4 linked regions of the Homo sapiens genome follow. The protein of the gene in region 2 purifies or fractionates together with the protein of the main gene of each other region. This does not show direct contact. Each region holds a gene or a part of one and is shown on either strand. Other genes may lie near its edges. The genes, in order: ZDHHC6, ROR2, MYO1B and HMGA2.

What was found.
Region 1: the proteins of ROR2 (region 2) and ZDHHC6 purify together in Homo sapiens (affinity purification with mass spectrometry; one large-scale study listed by BioGRID and IntAct). This does not show direct contact.
Region 3: the proteins of ROR2 (region 2) and MYO1B purify together in Homo sapiens (affinity purification with mass spectrometry; one large-scale study listed by BioGRID and IntAct). This does not show direct contact.
Region 4: the proteins of ROR2 (region 2) and HMGA2 purify together in Homo sapiens (affinity purification with mass spectrometry; one large-scale study listed by BioGRID and IntAct). This does not show direct contact.

What each region holds. Positions count from the first base shown.
Region 1 is NC_000010.11:112,435,411-112,441,138, forward strand, and holds part of ZDHHC6 (palmitoyltransferase ZDHHC6), read right to left. Parts: intron 5,286-5,728; coding exon 5,124-5,285; intron 4,243-5,123; exon of another isoform or gene 4,096-4,242; intron 2,980-4,095; coding exon 2,926-2,979; intron 1-2,925. UniProt on the Homo sapiens protein: Endoplasmic reticulum palmitoyl acyltransferase that mediates palmitoylation of proteins such as AMFR, CALX, ITPR1 and TFRC.
Region 2 is NC_000009.12:91,749,918-91,755,645, forward strand, and holds part of ROR2 (tyrosine-protein kinase transmembrane receptor ROR2 isoform 1 precursor), read right to left. Parts: intron 1-5,728. UniProt on the Homo sapiens protein: Tyrosine-protein kinase receptor which may be involved in the early formation of the chondrocytes. It seems to be required for cartilage and growth plate development. Phosphorylates YWHAB, leading to induction of osteogenesis and bone formation.
Region 3 is NC_000002.12:191,411,676-191,417,403, reverse strand, and holds part of MYO1B (unconventional myosin-Ib), read right to left. Parts: intron 3,357-5,728; coding exon 3,224-3,356; intron 2,888-3,223; coding exon 2,735-2,887; intron 1,290-2,734; coding exon 1,162-1,289; intron 1-1,161. UniProt on the Homo sapiens protein: Motor protein that may participate in process critical to neuronal development and function such as cell migration, neurite outgrowth and vesicular transport.
Region 4 is NC_000012.12:65,836,414-65,842,141, forward strand, and holds part of HMGA2 (high mobility group protein HMGI-C), read left to right. Parts: intron 1-2,105; coding exon 2,106-2,156; intron 2,157-5,728.

The sequences.
Region 1 (5,728 bases), on a different chromosome or scaffold from region 2:
ATACTCAATCTCATCTGAGGTAATTTCTAAATGTAGCATGGCGGTTTATAAGCAGCCTTGGTCATCCACAAAAACAAACAAAAAAATGTTAATCTAATGTCAATATATTTATTATGCTTATTAGAAATGATACTTTGAAATATTTGATTATCAGGGGACAATGTTTTATGGAAAATGTTGCAATTATTTGTTGAGTGATATTAAAGTTAACTATTTACTAAAATAATTATTAAGCTATAATGCATATGAATCTATTAAGTTATATAAATCCATCCTCCCCAGAAAGTAAAGAATAATTTCATTTTCTTTTTTATAAACACAGCTTCAGAGTCTTCAAAATGGACTGAATTTCAAAGAAAAGAGTTCTAGGCTATTTACAAAGAAAAACTGGTAAATATAAGAGAATTTATAAAATGACTAAGACATGTCTTTGCCTAACAGAAACACTCAATGAAGTTAGGATTCTATCAATATTGTGTGTTAAAAGGTGATGAAGGGGTGTGGTAGATGCTATGGGAAAAGGGAACAAAGGAAACAAAAAGTACTTAGCCAAGTCTAGGGAGTATCCAGGAAGGGTCCTTGGGAGAAACAATACCTTAACTAAGTCTTGAGAAGCAAGAAATCAGGCAAAAAGAGAGGGAAGAGCATTCTAGGCAGAGGGAACAACATGTGCAAGGATACAGAAGCATAAGATGTACAAACTATGAGTAATTTAGTATCAAGTGTGAGACAGGGTAGAGAAGGGTAGGAAATTAGGCTGGAGAAGTAGATAAAAAGAAGTCCGCCAGGTGCAGTGGCTCACGCCTGTAATCCCAGCACTTTGGGAGGCCAAGGCGGGTGGATTACTTGAGGTGAGGAGTTTGAGACCAGCCTGGCCAACATGGTGAAAGCCTGTCTCTACTAAAAATACAAAACTTAGCTGGGCATGGTGGCATACACCTTGTAATCCCAGCTACTTGGGAGGCTAAGGCAGGAGAATCACTTGAACCCAGGAAGTGGAGGTTGCAGCGAGCCAAGATTGTGCCACTGCACTCCAGCCTGGGCAACAGAGCGAGACTCCGTCGCCAGAAAACAAAAAAAGAAGTCATAAAAGGTCTTACTTATGTAGAAGCTAAGAAGCTCAGACTTCAACCTGTACATCAGTGGTTCTCAAAGCATGCTTTATAGATCACTTTGAGTATTCAGGACTTTTTCTTGCTGGTCAGCAAGGCCAAGCTATTTTCATAATAATACTGAAATGTTATTTGTCTTTTTGTTGCATTGACATTTGCAATGGTGAATAAAACTGTTGGCATCTTAGCAAAAACCAAGGCAGTGGCACCAAACTGTGTTGGTAGTCATTATGAGCAATTCCATGTAAGAATGTCCTTGATGAAGCAGTAAAAATTGTTTTTAAATATTAAATCTCAACTCTCAAGGAGATGTCCTTTATTTTTAACAGTCTGTGTGACAAAATGAGAAGTATACATAAAGCGTGCCCAAGTAGAATGATCATCTCAAGGAAAATAGTTGTTAAGCTGTAAGCTAACAAAAGCTGTAGAGCCAGCTTTTTTAATGTAACACTATTCTTATTTGAAAGAATGAGTAATATAGCAAACTAAGGTTATTCAGACTTCAGGACTTGGTGAACATTTTCTCAAAAACGAACAGTCAGGCAGTCACTTCAAGGGAAATGACTGACAGTATGGGTTAATAGTAAAAAATTAAGGCTTTCAAATGTATACTAGAATTACAAAAAAAAAAACCTTGTATCTACCACTGTGAGCCTGACAGCTTTCCAATACTTAAGGATTTTTTCTCATAAAAATGATATATTGATATACGTGAATGCAATTTTGGGATATTGTATAATGAAAGGTGTTTAACGTTTGCAAAATCTACATAACACAGTAAACTAGTATTTGCCAAATGACCGATGCCTGATGTTACATAAAACCACATACTGGTAAAAGATTAATTCAAAGAGCAAGATAGACTGATGAGTTTTAAAATAAAAAGGTATAAAAATCTTATTGATAAGAAATATCACTTGTCAAGTTTTCAATGTAATACGGAAGAACATCCACTATTATCATGTAAAAGGCCTATTAAAATATTCTATCCTTTTCTACCTACTTATCTGTGTGAGGCTAGATCTTCACATACTTCAATCGAAGCAACATATCTCAACAGACTGAATGCAGAAGTGAGAATCCAACCATCTTCTCTTAAGTCAAAGATACTAAAGAGATTTGTAAAGATATAAAACGATGCTATTCTTCTCCCTATTTTGTAATTTGGAAATTGTGAATATTCCCCTGTGGCAACAATCAGCTTGGTCTGCCAGGCAATTCTTTGGTATACAGGCTTGCTCCCCTTCATGGACGTTATCTGCCCAGACCCTGCAGGTATTTGGGTTTCAACCCCTGCCACAGGAATGGTGAGGCTCTGAGAAGTTTTAAACACAGAGCAGGGTAGTCAGATTTGTGTTTCATGCTAGAATCACAATGGACAGTATGAAGTATTGGACATTGTGAGGTCTGTGACAAGCAAAATGTTAGGAGCTTCATTGAATGTCTAAAACACTGAGAAAAACCTGATGGCAGTTTGGTAGGGTGGAAGCTCCTTTCCAAATGGGCTGCTTTCTCCTCTAGTCTAAGAGACAACAAACAGATGGTTTGACGTGTGGCTTAGGCCTCTGCGACCACTCAGGGTGTATGAGAAGCACCTTTCTGTGGGAGTTACAGAATGAACAAAAATGTTTCCTATATTCACCTTTTATGTGGCATGCAAATGACTTACGGTAGCCATTTGGCAGCCATGTTTTCACTTTTAGGCACTTTTCGTTAATCCGGTCTAATAACAGACTTTATTAATATTCAGGACTTTACCAGTCCTTTATTAATATACTTTTTTAATATTGAAGAAACAATTATTAAAATTTACCTTCTCTTCAATCCATGACTCAATAGAAGTTTTGTTTCTGAGAATTATTTTCATCTGGAAATTAAATGATAGTAAAATTTAATAATGCGACCTTGGTTCCTTTAAGATTATCATATTCATAATTCTCTGAGATAGCTTTTATTACTCCATTCCATAGACAAAGATACCAAGGATAACAGAGGTTAAGTACCACAATTACCATGTCATCCGTCTGACTCCAAAGTCCTTGTTCTTAACTACTGCACCACGGTACCTCTCCGTAACAATGATTACACCCATCCATAATCAAATCTGAATCTAGTATGTTAATCAAACTTTATGTCATAAGTACTATTTTCAGAGCAAGGTTTAATAAAACATTGATATAATCCATTTAATCAGTGCTTACTTATAATTTGCTATTAAAATCTTTTATCACTATTTTTAACTAACTTTAAATTTACGATTAATCTATTTATGAGAAGTAACAGTGACTCATTTCAGTCAACCTCAATATTTCACTTGCCTTAAAAATAATGAATGTATTCAGTCTTTATTCTATTATTTGATTTTCCTAGATATGACTGATTCCACATATATAGGCTTTTATATTATAGGATCTTAGTTTATTTCTAATATGATTCTAAATTAGAGGCATTGGGGAAAATTTTTCAAAGAATTTGGTCCCAGGCTAGTAGACGATAATAAAGTATAAACAAAACCAGATTATTTTAAAACCAAGAGTTCCCTTAAAGTCTGGCTGTGCCTTCAGAGAGACAGTGTAGTATGTTAGAAACAGCCTTGGTGGAGGCTGCAATAAGCCGAGATCGTGCCATTGCACTCCAGCCTGGGCCAACAGAGCCAGGCTCTGTCACAAACAAACAAACAAACAAACAACAATAAAAAAATAAACAGCCTTGGCCCAGGAGTCCTCATCATATTCCAAGGGCCTAGCATAATACCTGGCCCACAGTAGGCCTTCAATGAATGAATGAATGAATTACGTGAATGCAATAAGTCATAAGAATGGTTTTTGGGCCGGGCACAGTGGCTCACACCTGTAATCCCAGCACTTTGGGAGGCTGAGGTGGGTGGATCACAAGGTCAGGAGTTCAAGACCAGCCTGGCCAAGATGGTGAAACCCCGTCTCCACTAAAAACACAAAAATTAACCGGGTGTGGTGGCAGGTACCTGTAATCCCAGCTACTTGGCAGGCTGAGGCAGAGAACTGCTTAAACCCGGAAGGCGGAGGTTGCAGTGAGCTGAGTTCACGCCATTGTTCTCTAGCCTGGGTGACAGAGTGAGACTCCGTCTAAAAAAAAAAAAAAAAAAAAAAAAAAAAAAAAAAAAAAAAAGAATGAAAAAGAATGGTTTTTGGTCCCTTCAGAGCCAGGTCCTCCTCCTCTGTGTTCTCATAGCACTGTGCACATAAATCTATGATGTACATATGGCCCTGTATTAGTTAACTGTTTAATATTAACTGTCAGTTCCTAAGGGCAGCTACCTCTTCATTATCATTTATGCAGCCTTAGAAATTAGCAAAGTGATTCATCAGAGTAGGCTTTAAATAGCATCTTTATCATAGGGCTGTTATGGAGATTAAATGAGCTAATACATGTAAAGTGCCTAAAACAGTGCCTTACACATAATAAGTGCTCAATAAATGTTAGCTATATTATGATTACTATTATTAAATATATACTATTATAAAATAACATTAGTGTTTACCAAGTACATGAATGGGTGACATTGGGTAAGTCACTTAACCTTTTTGAGAATCAATGAATTAATCATCTGTCGGGAAGGGAAAATGTTTACCAAGTACATGAATGGGTGACATTGGGTAAGTCACTTAACCTTTTTGAGAATCAATGAATTAATCACGTGTTGGGAAGGGAAAACAGTAAGACTCCTCTATTGGGGTGGATGTGAAGAGCAAGAGAGACTGTACAGGTGAGAAGAGCTCTCTCAATTCTGAAGTGCTCCAGAACTTACCTAACTTGAAGTTAGCATTTTAAAAACTAAATCAATACCTAGAAATTCTGGCAAAATTAAATCAAAATTATCTGACGAATACAAAGGAGATTAGTTACCTAAATGAAATAAGCAAAAATAATTTCCATTTCATACTGGACACTTAAATACAGGCTTTGTCTCTTTCTTGTGCAATCAGTCCCAACAACTTGACACTTTTGACTTGAGGTAATTGAGATGCTTACCTGGATAAAAAACAACATCCCAACAGCTATGGTTGTTCCTAAAGCTAATCCCAAGGCAAACAAGGTGGTAGCAAATGCAGCTAATCCAAATGGAACAATTGGAAGAGGATCTCTCCGGGCTGCACTCATGTCGATCTTCACTGTGTTCCACCCAAAGGAGAGCTATCGCAGCAACAATAGCACACGCACAAAATGTTTGGTTATGGTAACTGGTCAGACTCTACTGTGACACGTAAAACAACTTGATCAAAGAGATAACAACGTGGCCCTGTGGCCAACGCAAACACAGCTATTTTTATTTTATTTTATTTATTTATTATTTATTTATTTGAGACGGAGTCTCACTCTGTCGCCCAGGCTGGAGTGCAGTGGCACGATCTCGACTCACTGCAACCTCCACCTCCCAGGTTCAAGCAATTCTCCTGCCTCAGCCTCCCGAGTAGCTGGGACTACAGGCATGTGCCATCACACCCGGCTTATTTTTTATATTTTTAGTAGAGACAGGTGTCACCAGATTGGCCAGGCTGGTCTTGAACTCCTGACCTTGTGACCCACACCGCCTCAGCCTCCCAAAGTGCTAGGATTACAGGCGTGAGCCACTGAGC
Region 2 (5,728 bases):
TTGAGACTAAGTATTGTTCTGTCGCCCAGGCTGGAGTGAAGTGGCGTGATCTTGGCTCACTGCAACCTCCGCCTCCCAGGTTCAAGCAATTCTCCTGTCTCCGCCTCCCAAGTAGCTGGAATTACAGGCATGTGCCACCATGCCCAGCTAATTTTTATATTTTTAGTAGAGATGGGGTTTCACGATGTTGGCCAGGCTGGTCTTGAACTCGTGACCTCAGGTGATCCACCCGCCTTGGCCTCCCAAAGTGTTGGTATTACAGGCATGAGCCGCTGCACCCGGCCGAAAAACACATATCCTAACAGAAACATGGACAAAGTGCAGGCTATTTTAGTTATCTACCATAGTTATTTTCTATAATGTCACGACAAACACTGAATTAGTGAATATTGAGCCACTGTTCCCAGGGAAAATACAGTTAGTTTTCTGAGAGCCTCTGGTTAAAACATTTGCTTCAACCAATCAATACACATCTTGTTTTATGTACATTTTTGGTTAAAGACATCTTATTTGATGTATATTATTGATTCGTGGAAAACGCACAGCCTCTAACAACACATCTTCTCCGTAAGGCACATCACAGCTCCCTGCACTTGGGACACCAGATGGCACTTCAGCGCCACGCCTGGGAGCCATTTACAACAGCAGAATCACCAACAGAAAGCACACAAATAGGAAAAACGTGACACTAAGTAGACAGAAAGGATATGTGCTCACAGTATGAGGACTAGAACAAGAAGGCAGTGTAGTTTGGTTCAGTCTCAGCTGGAAACATGTGTCAGGGAGCTCAGGTTTTTCTCCACTCTGTGCATGTCCAAGAATGACCATGAAAATACCACGAGTGTTGATTTGGGGGACACGAAGTTTAGTGAATAAGCAAATTTGCAAATATGGAATCTGAAAATAATGAGGATAGGCTGGATACACACAGGCAATGCAATGGCTTTTAGAACGACAAAATGATGTTCAACCTCACTATTTACTGGTGAAATGTAATGTAAAATTACTATTTGACACCTAAGATGCTGGCAACATTTTAAGTTCTGATAATACCATGTGCTAGAAAACATGAGGAAATAATAACTCATGTGTTGCAGGTGAGGCTATGAATGACTTGGCCATCATAGAGGGCAATCTGGCCATTCCTGGGAGAGGTGGGAGATGCACACCCGTAATCCTGCTTCCTGATCTCTGTCCCTGGAGGACTTTCACCCATAGGGACAAAGAGACTTGGGATGCACAGTCACTATAAGAGGGTCCCTATCAGTGAAAAGAACTAACCTTCACTCGGCAGTCAATGCATGATTCAAGTGGAAACTGACTCACAGAATGGAATACTGTATATTAGTTAAAATGAATTTAACTATGTATTAACATGGACTTTCAGACTGGAAAGGTCTCCACATCAACCTCCCAAAAAAAGTCTAGTTATGCATCATTTACAAGAGACCTACATAAAACAGAACACAAAAAGGTGAAAGACTAAAGAGTGGGACAGGAATCATAAAAACGGTTCCTGGCAAATGCAAATTTAAAAAGCATGTGGAACTCTATTATTGTTAGGCAAAACTGAATTCAAGGCAAAAAGCACTAAAAGGGACTGTAAAAAGAAACCAAAAAACCCCACAAAAACCTATATAACCTTAAAATACACACAAAATATTAAAAATAGAGAACTAATAGAAACTAGCAAATCCAGATTGAGTGTGGGTGACTTTCACAAATCTTCAGGTATCTGGTACTCATGTGGATAAAAAATATATAGATATTTTTAATAACATACTTAATACTCAATCTCACAGATGAGTCAAGAAATGTGCAGATACATCAAAGCACACGTATTTTTGAAACAACAGGCAAGATTCACAAAAATGGACCGTATCTAACTGGTTACAAAGAAAAATCTCAATAAATTATCAAGAATAAAACATAAACAGCCCATATTCACTAATAATAATGCAACAAAAATCAGAAAACAGTATCAAACAACAGAAGCCTAAATGCGTGGTGGAAGCAGGGAGATGGTATTCAGAGGAAACTTTACAGCTTTAAATACATTTATTTGAAAATTTAAAAATGACTAGTAAAAATTGCTTTTTCAAGAGGCTGGAATGATATAAAAAATCACTTGAATCACTGCATACACCGGAATAGCTACACTTAAAAAGGCTGACCACACCAATGTTGGGAAATATGTGGAGTCATCACAAGTCTCCCACACTGTGGGTGGAGGTAAAAAGAGTTCAGGAGAAGGCCCAGGAATGTCTTATAAAATTAAGCACACACATGCCCTATAATGCAGCAATTCTACGCCTAGTTAACACTAACAGAAATGAAAATGCATGTCCACAAAAAGTATAGAGTATTCCTATACAAGGAACTTTATTCATAGTAGTCAAGCCTGGAATCTGCTTAGGTGTCCTTCAACAGGAGAATGGATAAATCAACGCGTATGTTCATACCATAAAATGCTATTCAGCAATAAACAGCTGTAACCTACTGATACATGTACAACACAGATGAATCTCAAAAGCACTATGCTAAAAGGACGCCAGGCTTAAGTGGCTACATCCTGAAGGATTTCATTTCTGTGATGTTTAATAACAGGAAAAACTAGTCCATTACTTAAAAAATCAGAATAGTGGGTGCCTGGGGTAGAAGGGAGTTGACTAGGAAGTTGCACGACAGAGCCTGCAAGCGTGACAGAGATTCTGTATCTGGATAGGGTGTTTCGATTGCAGAGATTTATGCATTTGTCAGACCTTATAGTGCTATACTTAAGATGTGTGCATTTCACTGGTATGCAAATTTTAACTGAAGAAGGAGGAGCAAGAATCATAAACAGATACTGAACTCTCATTAATGATATATATGCTGAAGTATTTCAGGGTAAATGTACAAGTATCTGCAACTCAGTGAAATGAATGAAAAATCAGATGGATTGATGGACAGATGGAGGCTGGATGGAACGATAAGTGATAAAGTTAGCACAGTAAAATGTAAATGCTAGCATCTAGCTGGTGAGTATACAGGAGCCCACTATAAAATTCTTTCAACCGTATGTTTGAAATTTTTCATTATAAAATGTTAAGAAAAAGAAAACACCTCAAAACACAAAGGAAAGTAGTCCTTGATAAGAAAATTCAATTTAGATATTAATTCTCACCAAACTGACCTAAAAATTCATTGTAATTCCAATCAAACTACCATCAGAATCTTTCAAGGAAATCATGACATTCTTTAACAAGACATAACATGAAAAACAAATTATTAATTTGTAAAAGTTTTAATTTCTATATGATCAAGAAATAAGACATAAAGAATTATCAAAATTCATTAAGAAACAATGTAAAGGAAAAATGAGCGAAGAATATGAAGTGGCAATTGACAAAGAGGAGACATGAGTGCCAAGCAATGTGTGTCCACATGCTCAGCCTCACTAGTAACCAGGGAAATGGAGAACAAAGCAGGTCATTTATTCATTTTTCATCCTTCAGAGTGGCAGAAGTTAACAAGTTTGGAAGTCATCTTATGGAAGATAAGGAGAAATGGGTCCTTTGACGTTGTCGGGAAAGTAACCTACGAATGACCATTTGGCAGTATCAGTTTTAAAAAGGGGATGCCTGTGCCCCTTTAGTTTTTCCTCTTCAGAATCTCTCCTAGAGAAACCCAGCCACAGGTCTCAGGGCCAGGGAAGGGAGACGCGGTGGCACGAGTGGCTGGGATGAGGCTTCCCTGATGGGAATGCCTGTCACAATGGAACAGTCACATGCTCTGCACATGAGTCCAGAAACAGGGAAAGAGAGCATCTGGAAACCTCAAATACACTGAGATGGAAAGATTTCTGTGAATACTGTTAACTAAACATGTCAAGTATAGCATCATTTATGTAAAAAAGTATATAAAACTGATAAGAGGTATTTCTTTTTAAAAATATTTTTGTGTTTATTGTCAAATAGCACTCCAGAAATTTCTCATCAATAGTGTATAGGTAAGCATATTTCTTCATTGCCTCAATAATACTGAGTAATTTATGTGCTTTTAGACCTTTTTTCAAGTTGATTGTTTTGTATTTCCTTAGGTAGATGTATGTATGTACTGAGTGCCTACAAACTCCCTGGATGATTTACCTTTATGACAAGGGAGGCAGGAGGCCTGGAAGGATGGGAGGTCAGGCGGGACTTTCCGAAACTGCCCCAGTCATTTACATCAATGTGTGGATTAAATCCATAACTTAAAGTGAGAAGAAAGTCAATGTAAAAATATTGTGAAATAATTTATATAAATATATATATTTACAATTTGTATATAAATATATGAATGTTTAATATTTGTATAATTATAGCTCTGTAATTATATGTTATGTATTTACAATATATTATATAGTTACATAATATATTTATGTAACTATATATAAATGAACTATAAAAGTTTTATTTATAAAATACATAAATATAGGCCGGGTGCAGTGGCTCATGCCTGTAATCTCAGCACTTTGGGAGGCCAAGGTGGACGGATCACTTGAGGTCAGGAGTTCGAGACCAGTCTGGCCAACATGGTGAAACCCCGTCTCTACTAAAAATACAAACATTAGCCGGGCATGGTGGTGCGCATCTGTAATTTCAGCTACTCGAGGCTCAGACAGGAGAATTGCCTGAACTTGGCAGGCAGAGGTTGCAGTGAGCGGAGACTGCACCACTGCACTCCAGCCTGGGTGACAGGGCGAGACTCTGTCTCAAAAAATAAAATAACTAAAATAAAAGACATAAATATAAAATAAGAGAGAACAATAGTTCAACTTTTGAAATGACTTATATGCCTTTTTCCAAAGCCCCATAATTGTGCTCATGATGCAATTTCTTCTTTCCTTACTCTGTGTCTGAAGGACTATTAAGGAAAAATGCTCCATCACTATTGCTCAGCACAGAATCTTCCCAAATATCTTCCCTCTAGGTCAGGTGTGGTGGCACACACCTACAATCCCAGTGATTTGGGAGGGCGAGACAGGAGGATTGCTCGAGGCAAGAGTTTGTCACCAGTCTGGACAGCATAGTGAGACCCCATCTCTACAAAAAATAAGAAAAAATTATCCGGGTGTGTGGTGGCACGCACCTGCAGTCCCAGCTACTTGGGAGGCTGAAGGGGGAGGATGGCCTGAGCCCAGGAGTACAAGACTACAGTAAGCTGTGATCGTGCCACTGCACTCCAGTCTGGGTGAAAAGCCAGGCCTGTCTATTTGGGGGGGGAAAAAAATCTGCCCTCTGCAAGCAAGCTGCTGATGTCTGCTGAGACAGGTCGCTGCCCTGCCCAGCCTCCCAACGTGGTGTTGCAGCACATCATGGGTGGGTAATGGGTACAAGGCCCAGGGAAACAGAAATCAGCCAACACTGCACACTTTACCAACCATATAGTGTTCATGCTATTGTTCAGAACATCTCAAAGTGAAGCACTGCTCTCCAATATGTCTGAGGAGGAAATGCAGGAAACCCGGACAGTCACTGCTCATCTCAAACACCGGCAATGGAATGAGCACTCCTCTGGGTACACGATGGGAGAGTGTGGGCAGTTCAGAGGGGACTCTCCCAAGACAGCCTGGCCACAGTGGAATAACCTCGTACTGGGAAACCAGAGGCCTGAGTTCAAAGCCACTGCTGTCAGCAGCTCGTGAAGGAGTGTGAGCCTGGCTGTGAGCCTCGGTCTCCTCATCTGCAAGGTGGGGTTGAGACTC
Region 3 (5,728 bases), on a different chromosome or scaffold from region 2:
AATCCTTAACTGAAACACACCAACCATTATTTTTTTCCTAATTTCTTTATGAGAAAGATCTCATTAACAAGAAAAGTTATTTAGTCCGAACAGCAATTTCCAATATAGAGTATACATGAAGCCCAACCTCCCACCCAAATCTAAACACTTCAATGAGAACTTAAGAAAAGCCCACAGCACTGCAAAATCCTAACATATCAAAGAGAGTCTGACTTACAAAGGGGCAGAAATGGGTGTAAATTTATTTTAGAAAGACTTTTAGGAAGAGTTGAAACAGAATAGACTAGAAAATTCTTAATTAGAAAAGAATATAATTTCCTGAGCAATCTAGACATGCAAAGAAGTATATAAGCAGGTAAACAATCTATTGAAAGGTAACCAATTAAGTATAATCAACACAGTAACTCAGATTTCTCCAAAACACTTACATAGATAGATACAATAAATCTGGGGATGCCCCAACCTGTATGCAAATAACTAACTTCTATATTCAGAACCCTAATGAGAAATTGAAGAAGCAAATTTCAAATTTATACCAGTCTCAGATGTCACCACATCAAAGAGGCCTCCCTGACTCTTTTTTTTTTTCTGAGACGGAGTCTCACACTGTCACCCAGGCTGGATTGCGGTGGCACGATCTCGGCTCATTGCAATCTCCGCCTCCCGGGTTCAAGAGATTCTCCTGCCTCAGCCTCTTGAGTAGCTGGGATTACATGCGCCCGCCACCACGCCCAGCTAATTTTTTTTGTATTTTAAGTAGAGACGGTTTCACCATGTTGGCCAGGCTGGTCTCGAACTCCTGACCTCGTGATTCGCCTGCCTCGGCCTCCCAAAGTGCTGGGATTACAGGCGTGAGCCACTGCGCCTGGCCTACTCTCTGACTCTTAACCCTTTTTTTCCTCCATAAACACTTGTTAGCCAAAATCTTATCAACTATTTCATCATTTTATTTGTACATACTGGTCTCTTCCACTAGGATGTCAGGTACATGAGGTTGGAGACTTGGTCAGTGTCATTCACTGCCCATTTATCATGTGGAACAACTACTAGACACATACCTGGTACTTAATAAGTAGTTGTATTAATGAATGAGATCGAGAGCTGAACTAAAACAAAAAAGCTGAAAGAGAAAAAGGGTTTTCAAACAATACATGAACGTACTCATCGGAAATCTCAATATTGAGCTTCTGTTTGGTTTGGCTGAGAGTTGTGCGATAGAGCTTGGTGGCCATTTCAATCAGGTGATCACTGCTGAAGAGAAAGTCTCCTTTACTAGCTGCTTCTGAGCCCTGCAAGGACAAACCAAGAGTCGGTCATAATTAAAGATACCTTAGAAGGTCAATATTTACAGGCTTGGCTAAAAACATACTTACAGTCTCTTTAAAACATCAGATCCTGGAATCCATTCTCCCAAGGTAAACAATAATGACAAAAGCAGTGTTTCTTCCAACTTGCTCAGAGCACTTTAGTAAGGTTACCTAATCCCCTTCTACCTAAAGTCGGTGGATGCAGCAGAAGCACCATGTGCATCACTTGGAGCTTGCTAGAAAAGCAGAATCTCAGGCCCTACCACAGCCCCAGTGAATATGAAACCACAACGCAACCTCCAGGTATGGGTTTACACATTCAGGTTTGAGGAGCATGGACCTATCCCGCAACTCTTCTGAAGGACTTGATTAAAAAACTTTTCAGTGATTTGGTTAAAACCCTAATGACAACACTTCCAACAAATATCCTAGGGCAGTGGCTCTCAGCCTTAGCTGTGCAAGGGAATCATCTGGGTTTATTCAAAAAAAAAACAAAACAAAACAAAAAAAAAAACATGATGCTTGTGCCCCCTCTGAGAAATTCTAATTTGATTTCATAGGGGTATGGCCTGGGCATCAGAATTTTTAAAGTTCCCAAGCTGTTTACATGTGTCACTGAGGTTGAGAATCACTGTCCTAGTATTTGATATGCCCCCTTTAAGTTAAGATCCAAAGTAGGGTAAACAGGCTAAGGGAAGCTTTGGGGATTTTTCTAAGTTTAGGGTTGGCCAGAGAGTAACATTATTAGCTAGACACATGTCCCTACATATGATCAATATTTGTTAACTTTTGTTTATTCAGTGACTATGTGTTATGTGACAGGCCCTGTTCCTCCAGTGTCTCATTTAATCCTTAATCCTTACAACAATGCTATGAAGTAGGCACTCTTACTATCCCCATTTTAAAGATGAGAAAAAGTAGGTAGGCACACACAAATTAAATGCCTTGGCCAAAATTATCATAAAGTGAGTGAGACCAACTCCAGAACCTACATGTAACCACTGCATCCAAGCCAGGAGTCCTGGTTAAGCTAAAGGCACAGAACACTAAAAATTATTTAGGTTAAAATTAACTGGCGGTTATTTTATTTTAGTTGTATCCTTTAATGTAAACCCCCAGATTAGAGATGAACATTAAGACATTTACTAAGTTGATACATAGAAGAAAAAACAGGAGAAAACAAAATTTAAAACATCTTGATATTTCTATGTATTAGTCTCAAAAAGTAAAGTAAACTGGCCAATAAAAGTGATTAACTTTATTCAATTACTGAAAAACTGAGTCGGAGATTTTACATAGGGGTGAATATCCAAAATTTGCAAATTAGCAAGGCAGATATATAAACTGCGATAGGATTATCAGATATGGAAATTTTTTAAATCAATGGCTGAGAGATTAAGCACAGAAATCTTCTGTTGAACCTTTACCTCTTTGAGGTGGACGGCGAAGAAGCCATCATTTTGTGAGCTCATTGATACCTTGGTCACATCCACCAATGGAACCTCTGACTTGATTTGTCCAGACTTTTGGTCAGCAAGAAGGAGATTATTGTTTGTTAAGAGGAAAATCCGAGATGTACTCTAAATCAAAATAAAAAATAGTATAAAACCAATGATCACAAATACTCAAAAATGGTCCATGAGTTTAAGGCATTATTTGCAAAAATTCCAATATCCTTCAACAAACATACCTATGTAAACCAAGAACGCAGTAAAGAACATAAATAATATGTTTTATTTCATAAAAATGTCAGAGAACAAGCAAAATTCCACCTAAGCTTAAAGGTAAGGGGAAATAGCCGCCTTCATAGTTAACTCTACTGAGAACATGAAATGCAAATTTTTACATTCAGAAAACAGGGTGACTATCCCAACTAATAGGTACTTCTTATCAGTCTTCAAGGTTAGCATTTTTACCTTCCCATTAGCACGGTTAATTTTGTTCACGACTTCAGCAATGATGATCTTTTCTTCAATGGCATCTTTGAGTTTCTTATACTTGGGGTTCTTGTTGATTTCCAGGTAAGCCCCTTGGAATGGTTGCCCAACACTAAAGGAAAAAAATTCCTGCACATTAGAAATAGTTTCAAATGAAAGTACCACTAAAAAAAGGAAACAGGTCAGTTGATTCTAAGGAGTAGCTGACAACTTCATAAAAATTGATTTCAATTTATTTTATATATTACACTTACATCTGTCCTAAATATAAGTTGGAAATGAAACCTTAAACCTATTTCAAATACACTTTTGGGGTGATCATGGCATTTGGTGGGCAGGACTTTGATAATAATCTTATCACACGGAACAATCAAGACAGAAATCACTCATAAGAACAACAGCTAAGACTCAAGTACATGGCCTCATGTGAAGGAAAAGGCAATTTCTTCTAATCTGTTAATATAAAGTTAACAGCTGCTCACAAAGGATTTACTAACGCCTTCAAACAATATGTGGCAGTGAAAAGAGCTGAAATCATTACCATCACCTGCTCTAAAGAAAAATTTCATTTCTTGCAGAGAATAAGAAAATCAATAGGCCTTCTGGGAAAGAACAGATCCAGGGCAATCACTTTAGAAGAAAACTATAGAACACTTAATATTAACATGTAACTGTGGTTCTAAGTAGGCAATACAGATGGTCTCTGACTTGGTTTGACTTAGGGTTTTTCAGCTTTACAGTGGTGCTCATAAACCATTCTGTTTTTCACTTTCAGTACAGTGGTCAATAAACCACATGAGATATCCAACACTTTATTATAAAACAGGCTTTGTGTTAGATGATTTTGCCCAACTGTAGGCTAATGTAAGTGTGCTGAGCATGTTTAAGGTAGGCTAGGCTAAGTGATTGTGTTCAGTAGGTTAGGTGTATTAAATGCATTTTCAACTTATGATATTTTCAACTTCATATGACATATGACAACTTCATAAAAATTGACTTCAATTTATTTTATACATTACGCTTGCATCTGTCCTAAATATAAGTTGGAAATGAAACCTTAAACCTATTTCAAATATATTTTTGAGGTGATCATGGCATTTGGTGGGCAGGACTTTGATAATAATCTCATCACATGGAACAATCAAGATAGAAATCACTCATAACCCATATGATGGATTATCTGTGTGTAACTGCATCATAAGTTAAGCAGCATCTGTATATGAAAGGAGAATCAAGCCTCTTCTCCTAGAATATGCCTCTAAATGGACAGAAGTAACCAAAGCAAACATTCAGAATCAGGGCAATTTTTTTTTTCCCAAACAAACTAATTTTTGTAAAAGGTTAACTGTACACTTATCACTAAGATATCAATTTCCCTAAAGACTTGTCGGGGGACTCTTTCAGGACAGGTTCATCAAAGGCACCAAGGAAAAACTGCTGCTTCAAGGAATCTATAAGCTTCATTTTGAGCTACAAAGTTCTGGCAATTTGCAAATACAAATTTAAATGCTTATGTTGTGGGTGGAGGATAAGGGAAGAAAAATCCACGTAGGTGGTCAGCGTTTCACAGCTCTCAGGATATAAAAGGCCAACTCCCATAAGAGCTGCCACTTTGCAGGGTGGTGGGAGGCTAAATTATTCCACCTCTCTCACTGCTGTGGGGTGAGTGTGCCACTATCCCTGAAAACTGATAAGACTACCCAAAAAGGACTTGGCTTGAAGTTAACTTTTTTTGGTTCCTATTCAACTGTGTTTTAAATTATAAAAATGCTAACAGGCTTTTAAATTGTTTCCTCAAAGATGTATTTTCCAGCCTGTAGTTTCTGAAGAGTCATCCACAGGAAATGTTCATTAAGAAGGTTATTCCCTAATTTAAAAATGTATAAAAAAAAAGCTGAATAAAATTAGTTGCTGAAGCAAGCATACAGACAAATTCTCCTGTTTGAATATGCTTTATATAACAGGCACTTTGGACAACTTTGGATTTAGACACTGTGTTTGACTTAAGGGAGTATGTATCACCTCAAGTAGCCACATCAGCTAACCAATGAAGTTGTACAATTTAAAATATTTAAACCCAGTGAGTCTGGCAATGTATATTCCTTTAATCCTTTAAAAGGAAGATATTTTAAATGTGTATAAAGTCACAGAGAATATAAACATAATTTACGTAATAAATGTGAATATACTCAGCATATAATACATTCTTTCTTTGGCCATTCATTGGAAGAAGCTTAAAGTTGTTACAGATTTGGCTTGAAATTGTACAATCTACTTTTTTATAAACACCAGATGAAAATGGGATTAGATTGCTGGGAGGAAGTGATGAATGCAGGAGATGTAAGACTATTGGGATAAACAGTCTTTACCAAGGACTTCACTTGCTGAACTTGGGATTGGTGTTCCTTCTTTTTCTGAGTCCACGGTGTCTAAAATAAAGGAACTGAACGTGCTGTACAGGCCACAGAAGTCATATCCGTTGAG
Region 4 (5,728 bases), on a different chromosome or scaffold from region 2:
AGTGAAAGAACACTTATGGAGCACCTCATGGGAGGCAGGAACTTCTAAGTACTTCTAGGAATGATGTCTCACAGGAGGAGTCATCTCCATTGCACGGATGAAACCAAATTGAGGTCTTCAAGGACCTGCCCAAAGTCATAAAGCTAAAATGGAAGAGCAGGAATTGGAATCTAAGCGTTCCAAGGTAGAGTCTGTGATCTTCTCAGGGCACCTCCCTCTCCATGAGGCAATGCTCTGAAGAGGGTATTATTTACTTGACACTCTGGGCTTTCGCTAAATTCATGCCCTTGGGACTGAAGGTAAGACAATGCCACTAACCTCTGACAACAAATGATTCCTTTGTGGAGCCATTCAAAAGTGATAATAAACAATGATTCAGAGTGTCCAAATCAGATGGTTAGATAGAACCCCTAAAGGCTACCAGGTTTTCTTTTGTCCTGGGAAATTAACTGAATCAGTGACAATTTTAGTTTCCTAAAGTATTTTTTTATGGTAGCAAATGCTTGTATACTACCGGGTAGTAGCATTGTTAAGAGGCTAGGAGCACAGTCTTTACAGTTAGACAAAACTGGGTTCAAATCCCAGGTCTGCCACTTACCTGCTTTGTTTGTGACCTTGAGCCAGTTGTATACCTAACCTATCTAAGACTTAGTTGTTCATCTACAAAATAAGAGGAATAATAATACCCACTTTATAAGGCTGCTGTAAGGATTAACGTAACACATGTGACTGACAATCGAGTGCCTGGGATATTTTAAATGCTCAATATTTGTGAGTTAACATTACAGTCATATAGAGTTTGCGTTAATTCATGGGACCTGTTGGATAGTAATGCCAGATCAGGGAGATACTATTTGGTGAGAAATGTTGTGGCTTATTTTATCTCTCATCTACCTGTCTGTCTATCTGCCTATCCATCTATCTGTTTGTCAACTATCATGTAAAGCTATTTGTTTTTACCAGGCAGATTGAAGAGAAAAAGAGGAAAGTTTCATTTGGCAGTGTAGACAGTCAATATCACTGTACCAAGTACCCCCACCGGCTGCTAACTCAGATAACAAAAGTAAAATGTGGAACAAGGTATCCTGGTTCAAGTTACCTGTATTTGTGTGTTAATATAGCCATGGATGATTCTTATACATGAAACAATATGTACTAAGTTTTCTTTATCCTAAAAAGCAGGAACACGTTTTTATAGATGTATGTGATATGTGTGTGTATTGGTGTGTTGTTGTGTATGAAGATTGGACTAGGGCTGACAAAAACGGAAAAACTAATTGCTTTATAAATAATGTTAACAACTGTGATATCAGAAAAATCTTCTGTGAAGTAAAGCAATGAAATAAACTCTCAAGATAGAAATGTATTCATGTTAAGTGTGGGATTATGGTTAATAAAGTACATTTTTAATTAATCATTATTTCTAGGCACATATAGTTTTAATCACTGGGACAAACTGATGATTTCTGCCTGCTTTTTTTTCCTCTGCTTTAGGTGAACTGATTGACAGGTGATTGTTTCAGGCAAGGAACATTAAATTAAACATGTAGAAGTGTGCAAATATTTGTTATTTTGAATTAGAATGCTTGTGTATTCTTTTTCACATTTATACTTGCTTTTGACTACCAATATAGGTAGAAGAGCTTTGTAAATTGTAAAGTAATATGTCAATATTAATTTTTGCAACTTTAGTTGTGACATGGAAAGAATCTTGATCATCTTAAGAAATATTAATTTTCTAAAATACTAACTTATGTAGTTACAGAATGTGGGGATAATGTTTTTAATATGGACAGAAATAAAAGCAAAATAGCTTTTGAAAAAGCATTTTCATGTATTTCAGAAGAGATCACTACAGGGGGTGTCTTTTAGGGCGAGGGGTTGCATAGATACCTCTTTACATCATGCAATGAAGAAGAATCTACTCAGAAATGTGGAAAAAGATTAACCTTAGAGGAGACGAAGTTTGTTAAAAAAAACAAAAAAAAAAAAACCGATACGTCATCTGCAAAGCAGAACATTCTTACTTCAAATGTGTCCCTTGGTGCAGTACTTATAAACAATGTCAGGTAGAAAACTATAATGACTTCCTTTTTCATTTGCAGAAAGCAGAAGCCACTGGAGAAAAACGGCCAAGAGGCAGACCTAGGAAATGGGTGAGTAATAAGATATAATTTTTCTTCTTTTTTTTAAAGAAAAATTTCTGTTGTATTAAATGAGAAAAGTTTTATTTCGTCGATTACATGAATTTCCAACTTCTGGTTTGATGAATCTTTGAAAGGGTTAAGTCAAGAGACAAATTATCATCACTTCCTACCACTAGGCTCCAGGTGTTTACGTAGAACACTTTTCTTTCCTGAAGGTGGACTCATTTTTCTATCTCTTATCAACATCAAAAGAGGCTCCACTCTTCCTTCAAATAGGGTAACAATGAGATGATTTGTTCAGTAGATTGAGTAACTAAAGTTAAAGGGTATTATGAAGCCTTGGAAGTTGATTACAAATGGTGTTAAAATTCATACACAATGTGTATGTGATAACTTTTTAACGTTTTTCTTTTTTCTTTTTCTTTCTTTTTCTTTTTCTTTTTTTTTTTTGGTTTTCTCCATGGCTTTTGTTTGGACACATCTCATTTTCTAGATGGTTTGTGTTTTCTTTTTCACATGGCTTTGTTAGGAAGCAAGGGTTTATTTTGAGTTTTTCTTGCTTCCCTTAGTAGTCATTCTCCACATGCAAACATTAGAGATAGCTGTATCCATACAAGTGCACCTGATCCTATAGGCACACAGATCCTGTATCTTTTGAGGCCAGAAATTCAGTGGTCACTGAAGAGCTTTGCTAATTTTACTGCTTGAACTTTGTTCCCTTGTTTGCTGTGTTACCCATGTTCTTCTGGTCTGTCTTTCCCACTGACGGAGAAAAGAAGTCCTAAAAATGAATGAAATCGTTTCTCAAGAAGGATGAGGGCATCCTTTATACCCAGTGTTGCATATGATGGGTTCTTTGGCTTTGCTTTTTCCTCTTCCTCAATTCTTTCTTCATGCTTCAAATTTTAAAAAGATTTTTTTTTTCTGTTATGCTGGATTATATGTTCCTGTTTGCCATTCCTTTCTCCTCTAGAGTTCTGCATCACTTTCTATTTATACTTTGGTATTGCCTTTCTTTTAATTTATTCATCTTATATTTTTCCTCTGCTCAACATGTGTTGGGATTAGATTTCTTAGCATAAGGAAATGGGATGATCTTTAGATGAAAAACATCTCAGTGTTAAAATGTGACCTTAAAGTAAGGATATTTCATTCAACCTTCTGTTCATTAAATTAGTTCTCTCCAAACCTACTTATCAAGTGGTGATCATCTAGCGTGCTTGATTACCTTTAAAGTTAGGGAACTTGCTACCTCTCAAGGCTGCCTCTTTCTTCTAGGAAAGCTCTGCACATTAGAAAATTGTTCCATCTGACTACCTGTAACTTCCGTCCACTGTCTCTAGGTCATCCTTCTGGGAATATATAGAGTAATTGTTTTCACTTTCACTCATGATAGCCCTGCAAACGGTTGAGGGCAATTAACACATACTGTTTGTATGTATCTGTGTTTGTATGTAACACATACTCCAGTTTTCTCATTTTTTCCCCATAAAGGAACATTCTTGTTATTCTTTTCTGAACATGTTTGTTCGTTAATCTTTTGAAAGATGTCACCTAGAACTAAATATCATATTTCAAGTGTGGGTTCCATAAACAGTGGGTTTATCACCTTCCTTGTTGTACATATGGTTCCAGTTATCGATTGCTGCATAGTTAACCACTCTAAAACTTAATAGTGTAAAAAAACTATTTTATTATGCATATGGATTCTTTGGGTCAAGGATAGGCAGGGTAGAGCAGAAAGTCTTGTCTCTGCTCCATGATGTCTGGGGCCTCCACTGGGAAGACTCAAGCATCAGGGGATGACTTTAATACTTGGGATCCAGAATCTGGAGCTGTTTCACTTACAAATCTGGTGCTTTATCAAGATTGGCTGGAAATCTGGGCGGATCTGGGAGTGCGTGCACTGGATCACCCATACATGGCCTCCCCAGGATAATCAGGCTTCTTACATGCACTCAGGACTACCTCTGGGAATTTTCTGGTAACTGAGGAGGAAGCTGCAAGGCCTTTTTTGCCTTAGACTCGGAAGTCAAAAACTGCTGCTTCCATTATACTCTAATGAGCACATTGTTGACTAAGTTGATACTGGCATACATATCAAATAGAGATCTGCTGTTTTCTAAGCATCAGAACTCTGAAAGGACATCCCATACCATTGAACTAATTAATAAGAAAGACGTGTATAATCTTTCTAATAGGCAACATAATAGAAAATAGATGAGTTCTTTGAAGCCATGGGATTAATGTGGCTAAAATGAAATTAAATTGCAAGCGAATACAGTGGCAGTTAACCAGCAAACTAACCTCCATCATATGGGGCCTCTTAACTCTCTCAGCCTTTCATCTCCTCTGCCCTTGGGCTGTCCTATAATGGTCACCAATTCACCTCCATAGGTTAGAGTCCTGTCTTCTCCGAACCTTCCTATGGCTCCACATCTGGCCAGCTAGTTAATTACAGCCTGCCCTAGTACTTCGAAGTCATTCAGTTTACATCTACCTTTCTTTACAGTTTTCTTTCTCACCACACATCCTTAAACAGTTGATGATTCAGCCAAGCAGGAGTAAACTATAGAGCAATTAAAGGATATATATGTTTTTTTTCTTAACGGATTCTTGCTAATTTAGGGGGGATCTGGATTTCAGGCATCAGATCTTCCTGCTGGGTAAGAAGCACATGTGAGGCCCCCACCACAGAAATCCTTGCCTTTCTGAGAATAGCTGGGCCATTTTCTTTGACTCTCCTGGTTTCTAATTTTTACTGGCTGTGAGAATGGAAAATATTATGTGGTGAATTGTTACAAGTCCCTGATTTGGTCCCCAAAGAAGAGTTGTTCTACTGAGAAGAGGAAATAAAAGGAAATTGTATATTTTTTCTAGACAGTGTGTTTCCTCTTTGCTTGTATATCTTCTGTTGGGTAGAGTATGCAGCCAGTCACAGCAAGGCATTCCGTTCAATGGCATTCTTTGCTGGAAAGCTTGTGCTGAAGAAATAAATCATTGCGTTTTCCATAGGAAATGGGCTTATACTTTATAGCAAGTTCAATTCTTTCCAACAGTGTCATTCACCGATTTCCTTGAGTTAGAGATATATTTTTGAACCGACTGGATTCATTAGGTATATGGGTTAGAAGCCAAATTGTTCCCCTTTTATTCTTGTGGGATATTTTGCTTTGTTTTAAAGTTCTTGTGCTTCTAAAACTTGTTCCAGTAGATATTATAGATTCATGTAAGAGGCCTGGGAAAAGATACCTACCGAGGAATCCTCTGATCTGATGTAATTGGGATCCATATGGGTAGGTGTGGGAGAGAAACTTGCATCAGTCTTGCTTTCAGAGGGGATGAAGCATTGGCCAATTCAGTGATCTAACGAGTGTGTTAACTAGATTTGCTTAAGAACACTTCTATTGTTTACTTTAATTCCCTTCATCTTTTTTTTTTTTTATCCCCCTAGTTTGAACTGGATTTCAGATCTATTGTTTTTATGAGGTGGTCTGATTTTCATGTGTGTGCGTGTGTGTGTAGAAGAGGCTAGAGGTAAATTGGGTCTCTTTTTTTCCTGGCTTTTTATAGTTAAGAGC